2 separate regions of the Homo sapiens genome follow, and region 1 is linked to region 2. The links come from fine-mapping of genetic effects on plasma protein levels. Region 2 holds a variant in brackets. A gene starts in the other region. All regions are shown on their reverse strands.

Evidence for each region. PIP is the posterior inclusion probability: the model's chance that the variant is causal. The UK Biobank Pharma Proteomics Project read protein levels with antibody pairs (Olink). The fine-mapping took linkage between variants from a reference panel, not from the people measured, so its PIPs are less certain.
Region 1: it holds the start of ENPP6, and the variant in region 2 is fine-mapped to the plasma level of the ENPP6 protein (UK Biobank, PIP above 0.99).

What each region holds. Positions count from the first base shown.
Region 1 is chr4:184,213,961-184,222,286 of GRCh38, reverse strand. ENPP6 (ectonucleotide pyrophosphatase/phosphodiesterase 6) reads left to right here and starts at 4,414. Exons shown (of 8, transcript NM_153343.4): 1 at 4,414-4,708. The coding sequence starts at 4,468.
Region 2 is chr7:150,789,566-150,797,891 of GRCh38, reverse strand. TMEM176B (transmembrane protein 176B) reads left to right here. Exons shown (of 7, transcript NM_001101312.2): 2 at 1,318-1,526; 3 at 3,821-3,931; 4 at 4,292-4,348; 5 at 4,577-4,804; 6 at 5,717-5,836; 7 at 6,269-6,591. The coding sequence starts at 1,323. The coding sequence ends at 6,361. Among named protein-coding and RNA genes, the nearest start is that of TMEM176B, 6.6 kb to the left of the region's middle. The variant C/T (reference allele first, on the strand shown) is at 4,742.

The sequences.
Region 1 (8,326 bases), not on the chromosome of region 2:
CATTCTACCCCTTTCATTTAGGCTGTTGTCTTTATATCCTTTAATTCTTCGTAAGTCATCACTCGCAGCATAGTGTTATTCTTTTTACTTTAAGCAGTTATTTTTAAGGACATTTATGAAAGAAAAACATAGTCTTTTATATGTACTCACATATTGATCATTTATGAATTTTTTTCCCTTCCTGTGTATATTAATTTTCATCTTGTGTTATTTCCTCTCAAAGGACATTCTTTAGTATTTTTTTGTGGTACAAGCCTGTTGGTAACTAATTCTCTCATCTTTTGTTTATCTAAAAATGTCCTTATGTCGTCTTAAATTTTAAATAATATTTTTCCAGATACAAGGAGGGTTGACATGGACCAACAAAAGGCCAGCAGGGCTGCAAAAGCTGGGATGAATTAATTAATAGGACCAACAAGGGTGGATGTTGGCCGACATGGGCTGACTTGGGACCTCACTCTCAAATTGCATTGATTCTACAGCTAGAAAGTAGAAGCTAGAGCTTTGTCACTTTTCAGAGGTGAAAACTGAAGCCCAGAAAGGCAATTTCTTCAGAATCACACAATTGCATCATACCAGGATCTTGACTCTGGAATCACGTTTTTTTTGTGTTTTTTGTTTGTTTATTTTGTTTTGTTTTGTTTTGTTTTTCTGAGACTCTTTCCCTTCCATCTCACCTGTCTCTCCATAAAGGGGAGGCACCAGGGTGCTGACTAATCTGGACAGCACATTTCCTGAGAGCTCATGCATGTCCCTAGAGAGACTTGCAGCAGCTTTAGGACAAAGGTTCTTTCAACTTCTGGAGTAAATTTTTCATATTTTGCATTATCTAAGTGAAACCCCTGTGGACAATGACTTTACAGTATTGCCAACCCTTGAAAACAAGTTGCAATAAGCACTTATAAGCATTAGGTACTGATAACCACTCCCAAGTGAAGACATCCAGATCATAGACACATAGGTTTTGGATCACAAGACTTTGGGCACTTAATGTTAACCACCTGTATGACATATGGCTTTTAACTATTGCTTTTTAGCTTTCATTTCCAATCTTTTCTAGGTTAGACGGTTCAAGACCTGGAGACTGGCTTTGAGCAACCCTAGGATTACCTTGGCTTGAATTCCATCCAATACGTCTCTTTCTTCATATATTGGTATGTATATTAGAGATTCATATTGGCAATCATTTATTGATCCAAAGCTTTAGAGACATTGTCTAAACATGGTCATAACACAATATGATCATAAACATTATCATAAAACAATGATGACCCCACCCCAGATACATCACAACAATCTTTGTGGAGCCTTGGGAGCCTCTGGGGACCTGTGAACACGCTAATCTGAAGCAAGTTACTTCTGAGTTGACACCCACAACAGCTCAATGAGGCACTCAGGGAGCCATATTTTGAGTGTACCCTTGTTAGTAGTGGAGAAAAGTGGAAGTCCCTCTTATATTCATCTTTAACATTTGGAGTGCTTAACCTCTCCCAAAGTGAGCTCAGAAGCCATCCCAAAGTGAGCTCAGAGGCCATCCCAAAGTAAATCACTTGGACTTGCACTGTGACTCCAGCTTCGCAGTCCAGACAATCCCTGAGCCTCTCAGGAACTCACAGAGCACAGCTATCTGGGCCTCCTACCTCCATGGGCCCTCACCAGGGGAAGAAGTTCTCCTTCTAGCACATGTGATGTTCAGTGTCTAGGAGGCCCATCAACCCATCAGGCTGCATCTGCCTTTTCCCCTCCCCTCCCCTCCCTTCTCCTTCCCTTCCCTTCCCTCTCCTCCCTTTCCCTTCCCTTCTCTTCTCTTCTTCCCTTCCCTCCCTTTCCCTTCTTCCCATCCCTCCCTTTCCCTTCTTCCCATCCCTCCCTTTCCCTTCTTCCCATCTCTTCTCTTCCCTTCTTCCCTTTTCTTCCCTTCTTCCCTTTTTCCTTTCCCTTCCCTTCCCTCCCCTCCCTTCCATTCCCCTCACCTTCCCTTTCCTTCTCTTCTTCCCTTCTTCCCTTCCTTTCCCTTCCCTTCCCTTCCCTCCCCTCCCCTCCCTTCCCCGCCCCTTTCCTTCCCTTCTCTTCTTCGCTTTTCTTCCCTTCTTCTCTTCCCTTCCCTTCTTCCCTTCTATTCTTTTTTTTCCTTCCCTTCCCCTTCCCCTTTCCCTTTCCTTTCCCTTCTTTCCCTCCCTTCCCTTCCCCTCCCCTTCCCTTCCCTTCCCTTCCCTTCTTCGCTTTTCTTCCCTTCTTCTCTTCCTTTCCCTTCTTCCCTTCTATTCTTTTTTCCTCCTTCCCTTCCCCTTCCCCTTACCCTTTCCCTTCCCTTCCTTTCCCTCCCTTCCCTTCCCCTCCCCTTCCCTTCCCTTCCCTTCTTCGCTTTTCTTCCCTTTTTCTCTTCCTTTCCCTTCTTCCCTTCTATTCTTTTTTTCCTCCTTCCCTTCCCCTTTCCCTTTCCCTTCCCTTCCTTTCCCTCCCTTCCCTTTCCTCCCCTTCCTTCCCCTCCCCTTTCCTTCCCTTCCTCCCTTTTCTTCCTTTCTTCTCTTCCCTTCTGTTCTCTTTCCTTCTTCCCTTTTCTTCCCTTCCCTTTCTTTCTCTTTCTCCCTTCCTTCGTTTACTTTTCTTTCTTTCCTTTTTCTTTCTTTCTTCCTTCCTTTCCTCTTTCTTCTCTCTTTTCTTTTTCTCTGTTTATAGCAACAATACCACACAGCTCAAAGAAAAAAGAATAACATTGTTTTCAAAGTAACAACCTTTTAGGATAAACTCCCCTTTTCCTTATTTTTTAATAAGAAAAAAATTTAAATTTAATTATAAAAAGCATTACCTCTTATTGGAAAAAAGAATTCTGATCCTTGGCCAAGTCCCCTGAGAGGGGAGTGGTAATTTGGCCAATGTGTTTCTCTTTTGCAGCATAATTTAAAAAGTGACATGGTGATCCTGTGTTTGGGCTTGACTCAAATACAACAGAAAAAGAGAAGGAGAAAAGACACAAGCAGAGGGCAGAGGTGGAAGAGGGATTTTGGGGTTGACTGAGAGTGGCTGGTGTGGCTGGTGTCTATCTTCCTTCCCTGGAAAGTTTGCCCAGAGCCTGCAAGTTTCCTCAGGAGACAAGCAATGTTATAATGCGAATAACATCTAACATTTGTTCAACACTTGCTATGGACCATGCATGTTTTATGTCTTTTTTTTTTTGAGGCAGGGCCTCACTCTGTTGCCCAGCCTGGAGTGCAGTGATACAATCACAGCTTACTGCAGATATGACCACCTGTGCTCACACAATCCTCCCACCTCAGCCTCCTGTGTAGCTGGGACCAGGCACGTGCCGCCAGGCCCAGCTAATTTTTTAATTTTTTATAGAGATGGGGTCTTGCTGTGTTGCCCAGGCTGGTCTCAAGCTCCTGGCCTCAAGCAATCCTTCCACCTTGGCCTCCCAAAGTGGGCCACTGCACTCAGCCATGTTTTATAAGCCTTCACATGAATTGTGTTGTTTAATTTTATGTAGCATGACGGAGCCACTCTAGGGAACCCCTGGACTCTGGGTACTTTGTGCTAACTCTGTCTGCTCCCCAGCTCACATCTGCCTCCCTGTCACTAACCTCCTCCTATTTTCCACTCCGCCTAGTCTTCTCGGTCCCAAAGCCTGCATGGTAATTTCTAGCTCTGCTTTTCCATCTCAAGCTCTCAATCTCCAGCTCTCTATTTCATTTCCATCCTCCTGGGGCAATGCTGCTTCAGACCATTCTGCCAGTAATGATTTCCCATTGTCCAACTCTGGAAGCTTCTCATTGGCTCTAGGGCTCTTCTACGAACCACCTCCTCCTATGGGCACCAGCAGCTAAATCACATTTGAAAAATAAAATAATAACAAATAATAACACTGCATATAAAAACATAAGTGGCCAAGACATAGACAAATAACTTTTTTAAGTGCTGTGTCTACAGAGACACAGCTGGGAAGTTTACAAATGGGCCCACCGAAACGTATTGTTTCCTGTTTATGCACTGAGTCCAGAGGTTTGCGTTACTAAATTCTAAGTGAAAAAGAGTTTAAATGAGGCCATGATGTGGGATAACAGCAAATTAAAATCTTGCCCTTTTCCTTGGTTCCTCCCTTTGGTTAGCTCAACTGCAAAGTTAGTGTTGACTTTGTCATCTTCTAAAATTCCACCTCTGTGGGTGCTTGTATTTCTGGAACGTTCACCAAAAATAATAAGTTTGAACTCTCTCCCCTGGTGTTAATTCTGGGTTGTTTGGAACCCAGTTTATCTGAAGGAGTCGGTCTCTGGACTTTCTAGTAAAGGGTGAGCATAGATGTGTGGAAAAGGGGGTGCTGTTCCTTTAAATTCTGCAAGTGAACTTGACTCAGGAAGGCCAGCGGCTCAAGGTCCAGCCCCTGGAAGAGAGAATAGCTACAGATTCTCCATCCTCAGTCTTTGCAAGGCGACAGCTGTGCCAGCCGGGCTCTGGCAGGCTCCTGGCAGCATGGCAGTGAAGCTTGGGACCCTCCTGCTGGCCCTTGCCCTGGGCCTGGCCCAGCCAGCCTCTGCCCGCCGGAAGCTGCTGGTGTTTCTGCTGGATGGTTTTCGCTCAGACTACATCAGTGATGAGGCGCTGGAGTCATTGCCTGGTTTCAAAGAGATTGTGAGCAGGGGAGTAAAAGTGGATTACTTGACTCCAGACTTCCCTAGTCTCTCGTATCCCAATTATTATACCCTAATGACTGGTGAGTACCATGTCCTCTTCTGGGCAGGGAGGGGAGGGCTGGCATCCAGCAGGGAACAGTGAGCTCCTGGCATTGGAGTCTTATTTAAATGCTCTGGATTCTCTAGTCCTTTGGGACATCAAAGGTAGATAAAAAAAATCTGTGTTCTTGGCTGAGAAGACTTTTGTTTTCGTGGCGGTATTGTTTCCCAAAAGTTATCCCAAGGACCTGTTTTGGATTCTCAGTGCGGAGGACAGAGAACTATAGCAGTACATGATATTTGACGATATTAAAAGTGGTCGTTTATTTTAGAAAGAGAAATTCTAATGAGGCTCATATTTTCTAAGTTCAAGTCTGCAAAAGCAACAGGTGTCCGTGCATGTGTCCCAAACTCCTTCTGTCCCTTTTCTCTGTGGTCATGTCATCCTGGCACCCTGTGGGCTTGTTTCTCAGTGTGTTGGACTGTGAAAGTACCTGTGGGGTCCTCAGAGGGGAGTGGTGCTCCCGGATTACTTGGGGAAGGGGGGATGTTTAGGTCATATCCTTCCCTGTGACTTAGCAATGCCACCTTCCCCTTCTTTTGCCTTTTTGGCCAGGTAAAATGATACGGAGAAGAAAAAGCTTGTGTCGTTCAGGTTCCCCATTTGTGATTTGCAGCATCTACAAAAGACCAACCAGCAAAAACTCCACAAAACAAACAAAAACCTCGGCTAACCCAGACTGCCTGGGCTTGGGATAGCTGATTTTCCTAAGGACGGCCTTCATCTGAAATTGCCAGGACTCCAAACGCGACTGCATGAACCTGAGCCTCTATCCGTGCGATAATAGAATGTGCAGCCCTCTCTCTGCTCACAGAGTTGGATTCCCAGTTTCTGGTTTGTTTTTCAGCTATAACCTTTGTAAAGGCAGCGAGAGGCTCTCAGAAAGAATTTAGCAAACTATCCAGGGAGGCTGCTAAGAATGCACTGTTATTGCTGGTTATGCGGGACTCAGCTATGCACTCTGAGCACAGAGAGAGCTCTGCTAATTATGTTAACAGAAAGAAAATGAGATCTCTGATATCTCATGGACCTCCACAGAACACTAAAGCCAAAAGAGTCTAAAACAGACATTTATATCTCTGACTTTGTGCATAGATACTATATACACATGTACGGAAAAATGCCATAAACTGATGCCCCAAACTGAAGGGGAGAGATACTTCGGAGAAATAAAAATGAGGGCATGAGAGAGAGAAAAAAATCAGACTGCACACAAGCAAGGAAGTTATGTATTTGTTTTTTATTTCCCCCAGCAGACAAAAAAACAGTCTCTAAGATAAACAGAATTAACAAAATTCTCTGGCCCTCCCCTGGCATGTGTCTCCCCTTGCAGGGAAGCAGTTTGCAGGCTGCCGGCTCTCACATAGACGTGATTGTGTGGACAGCCGACTCCAGCTCTGTGCAGCGGCTTCACACACACAGCCCACCCCCACTCCAGCTGTCTTTCAGAGCCTTGCCAGGGGACCCAATTCATAAACTGCCACGCCACGTGCAGCTTCTGCAATCTTAGTGGAAAATGAACAAAATCCATCTTAGAAAGGACTCAAGTAAGTAAAAGGACCATTACAGACTCCACAGAGACACTAAGCCAATGACATGGCCTTTTGTTTGTCAGATCCACACTCCTGATATTGGCACAAGGAATAATTTGCACACAGCCTCCGTCATGCTGAGACACACCTTCTTTTCCGGCTGTGGGTGTTTTCCCTTGTGCTGTCCTGAGAGAAGGGCCCCTTCCTTTATGGGCAGCACAGGTCCCGTGAGTGTCTGACAAAGATCTCACCCTTGCTTTCAAACTGAGGCTGGCCCGAGGAAGCCACAGGTCTCCATATGTGTTAAGTCTCTGTATTTTCAGATGGCCAAATGTATTCACTGATGTGGAAGTCTGCTTGGTCTATATGTTTCATAGAAGCTACCCTGCACAAGGGAGGGATCTAGCAAGGCTCATGTTTCTGTACAAATGTCCTTGGGTATGATTTGTCTTGTACCTACTGGGCAGACTTGCAGACTTGAAGCAGAATTCGCAGGCTGGGAAATGCCAGGCCATGAACCTGGTATCACCTCCACTGTCTTGGAACTGACTCAGAGTTAAATTTAGACTATTTTCCCCAATACCCATACTTATTTTTCCACCTGATGCTGAAAACCTCCTCTTTTACTCATATAAAGAAGGATATAGCCATTGGGAATTGTAGCTAAACATATGGTTTGAGCATTTGAGCATTTTATGAACCAACAAAATTGCTATGCTAGATCTTTTTGGAAGCAAAAGATATGCTGTTTTAGGGTTCCTCAGCATTCACAAGAGAGGCTAAGCTCTCACTTCATTACCCGAATTATTGCTCAGAATACAGAAAGCCCTTGGTGTTCTTCCCTTTGCATAACGAGGAGTGATGAGTTGTTGGAAAGAATGCTGGCCCTTGAGCTGGGAGAACTTGCTTGGAGACTTCAGGCAAAATAAAATGAGATGAACTGCCGGGGCTGCATCAGGCCGGGATTTCAGGTGCTGCTGGATGCAGACATAGAACTAGGCAATGCATGGGGAATTTTATTTTATTTTATTTCACTTTAAATTCTGGGACACATGTGCAGAACGTGCAGTTTTGTTACAGAGGCATACATGTGCCATGGTGGTTTGCTGCACCTGTCAACTCGTCATCTAGATTTTAAGCCCTGCATGCGTTAGGTATTTGTCCTAATGCTCTCCCTCCCTGTGCCCCCGATCCTCCAACAGGGCCCAGTGTGTGATGTCCCCCTCCCTGTGTCCATGTGTTCTCATTGTTCAACTCCCACTTATGAGTGAGAACATGTGGTGTTTGATTTTCTGTCCCTGTGTTAGTTTGCTGAAAATGATGGCTTCTAGCTTCATCCATGTCTCTGCAAAGGACATGAACACATTCTTTTTTATGGCTGCATAGTATTCCATGGTGTATATGTGCCACATTTTCTTTATCCAGTCTATCATTGATGGGCATTTGGGTTGGTTCAAAGTCTTTGCTATTTGCACAGGTAATTTTAAAGTTAGGGCTGGACCCTCCTAGGAGGCCTTCGTGTAGAAAGTATGCAAATAGCGGAAACTCCCTTGAGACAGAGAATTTCACAGTGGATGGGGATGGGGAATCAACAGGCCTATTTGTGAGCAACCTTGAAACCATCTAGCCCAGTTGCTGCCATGAAGCCACCATGGCTGATTATTTATTTGCCTCAAAACATGTTTATATCAGGACAAAAGCAACCAAAATGCCAATCATGATCATGAAGATGAATCAAACAATTGAATGCCAGGAACATTGAATCTTTTTTCTTTTTTTTTTTATTATTATACTTTAAGTTTTAGGGTACATGTGCACATTGTGCAGGTTAGTTACATATGTATACATGTGCCATGCTGGTGCGCTGCACCCACTAACTCGTCATCTAGCATTAGGTATATCTCCCAATGCTATCCCTCCCGCCTCCCCCCACCCCACAACAGTCCCCAGAGTGTGATGTTCCCCTTCCTGTGTCCATGTGTTCTCATTGTTCAATTCCCACCTATGAGTGAGAATATGCGGTGTTTGGTTTTTTGTTCTTGCGATAGTTTACTGAGAATGATGAT
Region 2 (8,326 bases):
AATTCCACATTGTCTGTAATGGAAAAGGATTAGAAATAACCTAAATGTCTGCCAATAGGGAACCACTTAAATAAATTATGAGGAATTCATACTCTCAAAATATATGCAGTTACACAAATGAGTGAAGAAGCTTTTGTGAAAGTTGTCAGAATCATAATCGAGTCACTTGAGTTAAAAAAAAAATCTGAAAATGGAAGGCCCACAAGGCAGGGTTCTCATGCGTAAATAACCTGGGAACAAAAGTCATCACAAAGGACTCTGTAAAATGACAACCTTACACAAAAAAATACTTCTGTGAGGACATCCACCAGCAACTGCCTGTCTAACCCTGGACTTGTGTCACCCTTGTTATTGATCCTTGTAGCCAAGGATGATCACCTCAAAGAGATTATGTAAGTCTCCCCATTTTTCCTTTAAAAACCTTTGTCTTCCTTTACCTCCCTGAACGTGCACATGATTTACTATGGTAAGCATATTCTCATTGCAATGCCCTATTCCAGAATCAATCTCATTTTCTTTTGGAGAGCCTCTCTCTGTTATTTAGGTTGACACTTTTTATGGACTCATGTAGGATTATTCTAAAAACATATGATCGTGTGATCACAGCATCATGCAAATCAGTGTGTATAGTATGCTGCTATTTGTGGGAAAAGGGGGCAGAAATACTTTTTCACACTTTTGTATGCAAAAATGTCATGGTAGGATTTATAAGAGACTGATAATATTACTTTGCATCTGCAAGGCAAATAGGTGGTTGAGGGAAAAAGATGAGCGATAAGGTTTTAAAGGTATATATACCCTTTTGTATCTCTTAACTTTTTTATGTGTAAAATCACTATTGATTTCCAGTGCCATTGATATCTGCACTGGGAAGCCCCTTTGAATTTTGACAAAGACACTGTTTTTTGTTTGTTTGTTTGTTTGTTTTTGTTTTTTTTGAGATGGAGTCTCACTCTGTTGCCCAGGCTGGAGTGCAGTGGCAAGATCTGAGCTCACTGCAACCTCAGCCTCCCAGGTTGAAGTGATTCTCCTGCCTCAGCCTCCTGAGTAGCTGGGACTACAGGTGCACACCACCGTGCGGATTTTTGTATTTTTAGTAGAGAGGGAGTTTTGCCACATTGGCCAGGCTGGTCTTGAACTCCTGACCTCAGGTAATCCACCCACCTCAGCCTCCCAAAGCACTGGGATTACAGGCGTGAGCTATTGTGCCCAGCTGGGATCTTGACAAAGACACTATTTCTCTCCTTTCACCTGTGCTGTGTATTTTTCCCTCGCCTAGTTCCCAGACCTCACTGCTATATGTCTTCTCCCTGGCAGGCAGGATGACGCAAAACACGGTGATTGTGAATGGAGTTGCTATGGCCTCTAGGCCATCCCAGCCCACCCACGTCAACGTCCACATCCACCAGGAGTCAGCTTTGACACAACTGCTGAAAGCTGGAGGTTCTCTGAAGAAGTTTCTTTTTCACCCTGGGGACACTGTGCCTTCCACAGCCAGGATTGGTTATGAGCAGCTGGCTCTAGGGGTAAGACTGGGGTGGTGCGGGGTTGGGGGGCACGTTAACGAGGTGATGAGGTCAATTAAAATATAGAGCCAAATCTTCAAAATTAAAACGTTTTATTTGGGAGGAGAGAATTGCAATTTGGGGCATACACACAGACCAGGTGGTCTCCAGTATGTCTTTAGAACAAAGAGAAGGTTAGAGGCTTATAAAAAGGAGAAATGTTACATATTGCCCTTCATGAAAGATCATAGGTTTTGGGGAGCTGGTGAGCTCTGATGGGTGAGCGATGGCATGAGTAAAACTAATCCTAGAGTTGTAGCAAGGTCAGAAGCTGTAGATAAAGCTGGTTTCAGGTTGCAGCAGGCAGCTTCAGCAGCCTGATTTGTAGAGAATTACATTTTGGGAGCAACATTTTGTGCCCCGAGTGCTTTTTGCCCCTGGCCTCTCGACTCTGTTTTAGTTGAGTGTGACAAGAATGACCCCATTTGTAGGCTCAGCTTTCACAGTGGAAACTCTCCTTCTTCAATAGGATGCAAAAGAGGAAAGTGGGTTGAATTCCCATGAGAGGGACATGAGAAATCACTATTTATATCTCATTCTGTGTAGGAAAAAGTTGTAAGTGTCCCCACAGAAATTTGGATGGAAAGGAAGAATCGACCTCCTCTTTGGCACAGAGGAGTCGGTCCCAGCCAGAGGTAGGGCAACAGGAAGAACAGTCTAGAGGCTGTTAATTCGGTTTTATTGACCCCACATGGACTGAAAGCCTACAGGTGCAAGGCAATGTGTTCAGCACTTCAGGCCAAGCTACAGAGAGAATCCCTGGGCTATATCTAAAAGTACTCAGTGACCATCAGAAGGAACAGCAGCTACACTAATGACTGGAACTAAAGGTAGATCAGGTGAGGGAGAAGCACATCTGACATCCTTGAGGGCAGGAGAACCCTGAATGGAGAAGGAATAGGTATAGACAGAGGTGGAAGATGGACAAAAAAGAATTCCAGGTTAAAGAATGGCAGGAGCAAAGGCAAAGAGGCCAGAAGGCATAGGGCAAGTTCTATAATGGTTAAGAGTAAAGGGAATGGGCTTCATGAATGGGTGATTTGGGCCCATATTGCTGAGAGCCTTGAACGACCAGGTGAGGAGTCTGTCCTGAATCAGCTTTGACAGTGAGAACGCTGTCAATGGATTCTGAGCAGGAACCTGCCTCAGAGTCAGGAGGCATCCAGGTGAGAAGGATCGAGGATCTGCACTCACATAATCATAGCAGAAATGGTGAGGAGACAAAGGAGTCCCTGTCCTTCACAGACCTCCATGGCATGGGAGTGAAGGGGTTTGGGGCATAAGGAAAGAGAGGCATTCACAGCATGCAGAGAGGGTTGAAGTGTGGGTGACCAGGAGATCGGAGCCCTGAAAGTCAGGAGGAGCAGCCATTCGAGAGGTGTGTGTGTGTGTGTGTGTGTGTGTGTGTGTGTGTGTGTGGTAGTAGGGGATTTGGATGTGACAAATCCGAGATGCTGGTAGGATGTGGAGGTGGTGACAGTTGGGTTTTCCAGGAAGAAGAGGAGTTCTCTTCTGAGTCGGAGTTGGGTGTGTGAACGGCTTATTGGGGTATGACACCTATGAAATGAAAAGAGGGGGAGCAGGATTGAGCAGGAGGAACCATCAGGCTGCAATGCAGACTCTGCCAGGCCAGTGGGGGAGCTCCCAGGCAAAGGTTGCCCACTGCAGGAGTTCCACACTGGGTGGAGATGGCCCTTGAGCCACTGTCTTGCTTAATCATTGGCTGGGGGGCCCTCCTCAGTGTGTGTCTTCAGCTTGAAAAATTAGGGTGACCCTGAAGGAGCTGACAACTGCAGGCTGTCAGCAATCAAACAAGCCCTTTCTTGAAGGAGGTCTCAGCGGCACTTCTTTGTGTCTGCCACAGAGCCCTCAAGAGTGTGTGTTTGGATCTGAAGAGAAAGGATAGGCCAGAAGCTCAGGTCAGGCTGGGGGTTTGGATGGGACAATGGGACCTCTGAAGGAGAATGGGGGGGGAAAAGTGGGAATCTTCAGGTGGGATGAGAAAGTGTTGAAGTTGGGAAAAATTGATGAAGGATAAATAGCCAAGCCTATGAGAAGGGTGAGGGGAGACCCAGGCCAGTGCTGCTTCATGGATTTTAAGGGGACAGAATCTTCCAGAATCAGAGCTGCAGAGAGGTCAAGGCAGAGGAAAAGGAGAGGAGAGCCACCTAGGTAGGAGCCAGGCAGCTGGTCCCAGGGCAGCCGGGGCATGTGGACTCACGGGAAGGGGTCTGGTTTCTCATCCTGTCTTGCAGGTGACTCAGATATTGCTGGGGGTTGTGAGTTGTGTTCTTGGAGTGTGTCTCAGCTTGGGGCCCTGGACTGTGCTGAGTGCCTCAGGCTGTGCCTTCTGGGCGGGGTCTGTGGTGAGTAAGGAACAGGCTGTGAGCCTGGAGGGAGGCAAGTGGTGATGGGCAAGAAGGCGCTTATGGATCTTGGTTGGGGCTTTGGGGAAGCGACCAAAGTCTCTGGAGCCAAATGGCCTTTGGCCATGAGGAGGCTGCTCTGGGGTGTAGCTAAAACCCTGTCACTTCCATTTTTCTCTTGAAGACAGATGGGAGGGGTGGGGCAGGTATAGGTGGAATCCTGGTCTGTGTGTCAGAGTTCTTTGTCTGTCCCTGGGATCCTGCTTCACATTGGCTATTCTGGGAACTGCTGGTGGGAGGGTGATGATAGACCAATTCAGAAGAGTAAACTGGAGGCCTTTTTCTGGTGTCTCTTTTCAGGTGATCGCAGCAGGAGCTGGGGCCATTGTCCATGAGAAGCACCCGGGCAAACTTGCTGTGAGTCTTGGACACCCTCTCTCCACCTTGTTCACTGACCCCCTCCTGAATTCTGCTCCATTATCTGTCTTCTGCCCTTTGGTTGTCAATATCTTGGGGTCTTTCTTGGAGGGGAGGAGAGGGTTTCCTGGACAAGGGCTGGGGAAGAGGAGAGGGATTTGAGGCGGGGACCTCATGACTCTTCCACCGATTGAAGGAGCGTGTGTCATGACCCTCTTTCTCTTCCAGGGCTATATATCCAGCCTGCTCACCCTGGCAGGCTTTGCTACAGCTATGGCTGCTGTTGTCCTCTGCGTGAATAGCTTCATCTGGCAAACTGAACCCTTTTTATACATCGACACTGTGTGTGATCGCTCAGACCCTGTCTTCCCTACCACTGGGTACAGATGGATG[C/T]GGCGAAGTCAAGAGAACCAATGGCAGAAGGAGGAGTGTAGAGCTTACATGCAGATGCTGAGGGTGAGCAGGAAGAGTCCAGTCTTCGGGGACCCATCACAGCTCTTTTTTCCCAGGGAGCTGGGGGCCCTGGAGGACAGAGATGTAGGCTCTTTGAGCTTGGACTTCATGCTGGGTCTTTCATTCAGGAGGTTTTAATGTAAGCTACAGACATTTTTCAGACCTCATGACACGAAGATTCTCTGAATCAAGGAGGGTGAGGAACAAAGAGGAGACATTTCAGAGAGGAGATAGTGGGTCACCCTTCTGGCTTTTCTGGTGTGTTGGTATCACAGTTTTCCATTACTGAATTAAAAACCACACCAAAATGTAGTGGCTTAAAATGACAACTTATTATTTCTCACGGTGCTGTGAGTTGGCTGGATTCAGATGAGCCATTCTCACTCACGGGTTTTCTCATGCAGTTACAGTCAGATGGGGGTGAAGTTATCCAAGTGCTCGCCGAGGCTGGAGGTCTGAGATGATGTAGTTGCATGGTCCGGAGCTCAGCGGGGGCTGTCAGCAAGAGCCGGCAATGGCTTCTCCACTTGGCTTGGGCTTCTCATAGCACAGAAACTGGATTCCAATGGGGAGTACCCTAGTTGCAAGCATTTCAGGAGACAGAAAGTAGAAGCTGCCAGACCAGCTAAGGGCTTCCCTGTCACTGTATAGTGTCACTTTCACTGTGGCCAAAGCAGTTCTAGGCCCTTCCAGATTCTACGGGTTGAAGGAATAGTCTCCACTTCTTGACAGGGAGTGATAAGTTCACTCTGCAGACAAGCCAACGGGATGGAAGCTGTGGCTGGAAACACAGTCAGCTGTGGTGGGAGCAGCAAGCTGGATAGAGTCAGTGCCTGGGTGGGTGGAGAGGGTGGTGATGTGGGCAGCATTGGAGTAGCTGACACCTGACTATCTTTGTTCTTCCCTTATCTCCAGAAGTTGTTCACAGCAATCCGTGCCCTGTTCCTGGCTGTCTGTGTCTTGAAGGTCATTGTGTCCTTGGTTTCCTTGGGAGTAGGTCTTCGAAACTTGTGTGGCCAGAGCTCCCAGCCCCTGGTGAGTTGTCGGGGAGGGGCCTCTGGGCAGCGTGAGTCTGGGTGGTGAGTGTGTGGGACAGGTAGGAGTGCGGGGCCAGGGGCACCCGAACCTGAGGCTGGGCCTGGTGCCCCTCAGCTTCTTTCCATATGCAGCTCTCCCCTTTGCTGTCTGGGGAATGTGGCCATCACCATGGTCCTGGGCCAACTGTCGCCGCCCTGTGCCTCTCTGCGCCCTCCTCTGCTCTGATCTCCCCACTCTCCCCTCTGCCCTGTCCCAGGTGTTCGTCTGACTCCCCTTCCTCTGCCACCTTGTTTTTTTTTTGCCTGATCTGCTTTTCCTGTCACCTTTTCCTTTCCCTCCTCCTTTCCTCTTTCTGCTTTCTGAGTTCTATGATACTAACTCTGCCTGCATCCTTTTCCCCTAAGGATTTCTTTTTTCTTTTTTTTCCAGAATGAGGAAGGATCAGAGAAGAGGCTACTGGGGGAGAATTCAGTGCCCCCTTCGCCCTCTAGGGAGCAGACCTCCACTGCCATTGTCCTGTGAGCTGCCAAAGACCCCACGGGGTGCCCGCATGTCCCTGTCTAGGGCAGCCCAGGGCCCCCACTCCTGGCTCCTCACACTTGCCTCCCCTATGGCCGCTCTCCAGACCCTCCTCCTTTCTTCTCCCCACATCCGCACCTGCTGTTCCCACTCTGGGGTTCTCAAGTCCATGAACAGATATTGTTGCATTTTCCACAATGCTGATTAAACATAATAAACAATCCAGAAAAGCAGTTTTGCCCAGAAAGATATGGTTTCCCTTTGTTTATACACCTCGTGCGCCATGAAAGGCCTTTCTTTGTGTCGCTATGTATGAGGTTAAATGGGAGCTGATTTATCCCATTAAAACACTGTCCCAAGAAGATTAAATTTAATTATGTTCTGCTGTACATCCAGGTGGCAAAACCCCTTTTTATGATTTTCTTCAATTCAGTGTAAAGTGTAAGTCTAGTGGGCCTAGAATCTTCTTACCTGCTGAGATTGTCTAGGCTCCTACAACCTCGGCCTGTAGACTTAAGAGAACTGTGTGGAGCATGGAATGAGATTTTTGCCCCCTCCCTCCCTGTCTTCCTTCCTTTCTCTTTTTTCGTTTTGCAGTAATTAGTGTTGGTTCTGTCTCTTTTCCTGTCTCCACACACACATAAACACATCCTTAGTCTTCCTTCCTTTCATTGTAAATGATAGCAAACTGATTTTGACTTTTTCCATTTTCTTTATATATGAAGATATAACATAAATATATAGATGTAAGCATTTCTGAAGGGCAGGAAAGCTGGTAGGGGCTTTATGAAATCTCCATGAGGCCAGTTTCATGACTTAGCAGCCCCACAGGGCTGGTCTTCAGATCCAAGGCGATGGGCTGCAGGGCCTGCACCTTCCCTCTTGGCAGAGCGGTGCCACAGAGGTGCAGAGCTGCTGCGCTGGGCAAGACCTGCTCCTGCACAGGACTTGGAGTAGGGGCCTGTGCCGAGGGCGGTGCTGCTCTTCCTGGGGCCCTCACCAGCCTGTGCTTTACATAGAGGCTTGTAAAGAAGCCTGCGAGACAGGAGTGTGTTCAGAATATGGACAGGGTCAGCCGATTACAGCCTGAGGGGTAAATCCAGCCTGCCATTGAATTTTGTAAATAAAAATGTATCTAAACACAACCACACCCATTTCTTTACACATTGTACCTGTTTTTGTGCCACAAGGGCAGAGTTGAGGAGTCTTAACAGAGACTGAATGGCCCACAAAGCATAAAATATTTACTATTAGGCTTTTTACACACAAAGCTTGCTGGCCCCGATGTAGGAGCTTGCAGTGTAGAATGTTACGTTCTGTTTCGCTGTTGAGGGGTGTGGAGTGCTCAAGAATCCCTTCCAAGGGGAGCCAGCCTTGGATGAGCAGCGGGTGTGTAGCCAGCTGGTTTCCTCATTTCCCAGGGTCCAGAGCCCACAAATCATCAGGCAGAAAAACTTGGACTCAGAACCATTGCAGTCCCCATCCCTCCCTCAGTCCCCAGTAAAGAAGACATTAGAATCTCAGAGGAATTTAGAATCTCCTGAACCTCAACATTTATTTTACTGCCAGTGATGGAGTAATGGAAGCCCCCAATTCTTTGCTAAACAGGCAAATGTAAAGTAGCTAAGCCCAGAAGCCAAGCTGGGTTGAAATGGATAGTGTGGAAAGAGACCCATTAGCAGGGCAAGAACCTATGGGGCCTCACTTAGCCAGGCTTCAGGGAATGCTTAACCCATCAAAAAATGCGGATGGCTGCCTTTCCCCGTGTCTCATGTTTCCACACATCTTGTGAGCAGTGGCACTGACTGCCTTTTCAAAGATGTTCTCACCTCCTAATGGGCAGCCTTGGAAAATAGTGTCTTCTTCTGGACCAAAGGACAGGCATGATCACCTGTTATAAAAGAATCAGATTCCTTAAGCTCAGGGTTCCTTTTCTAGAACCCAGCCCACCGGCTGTGCTGGTGTCAC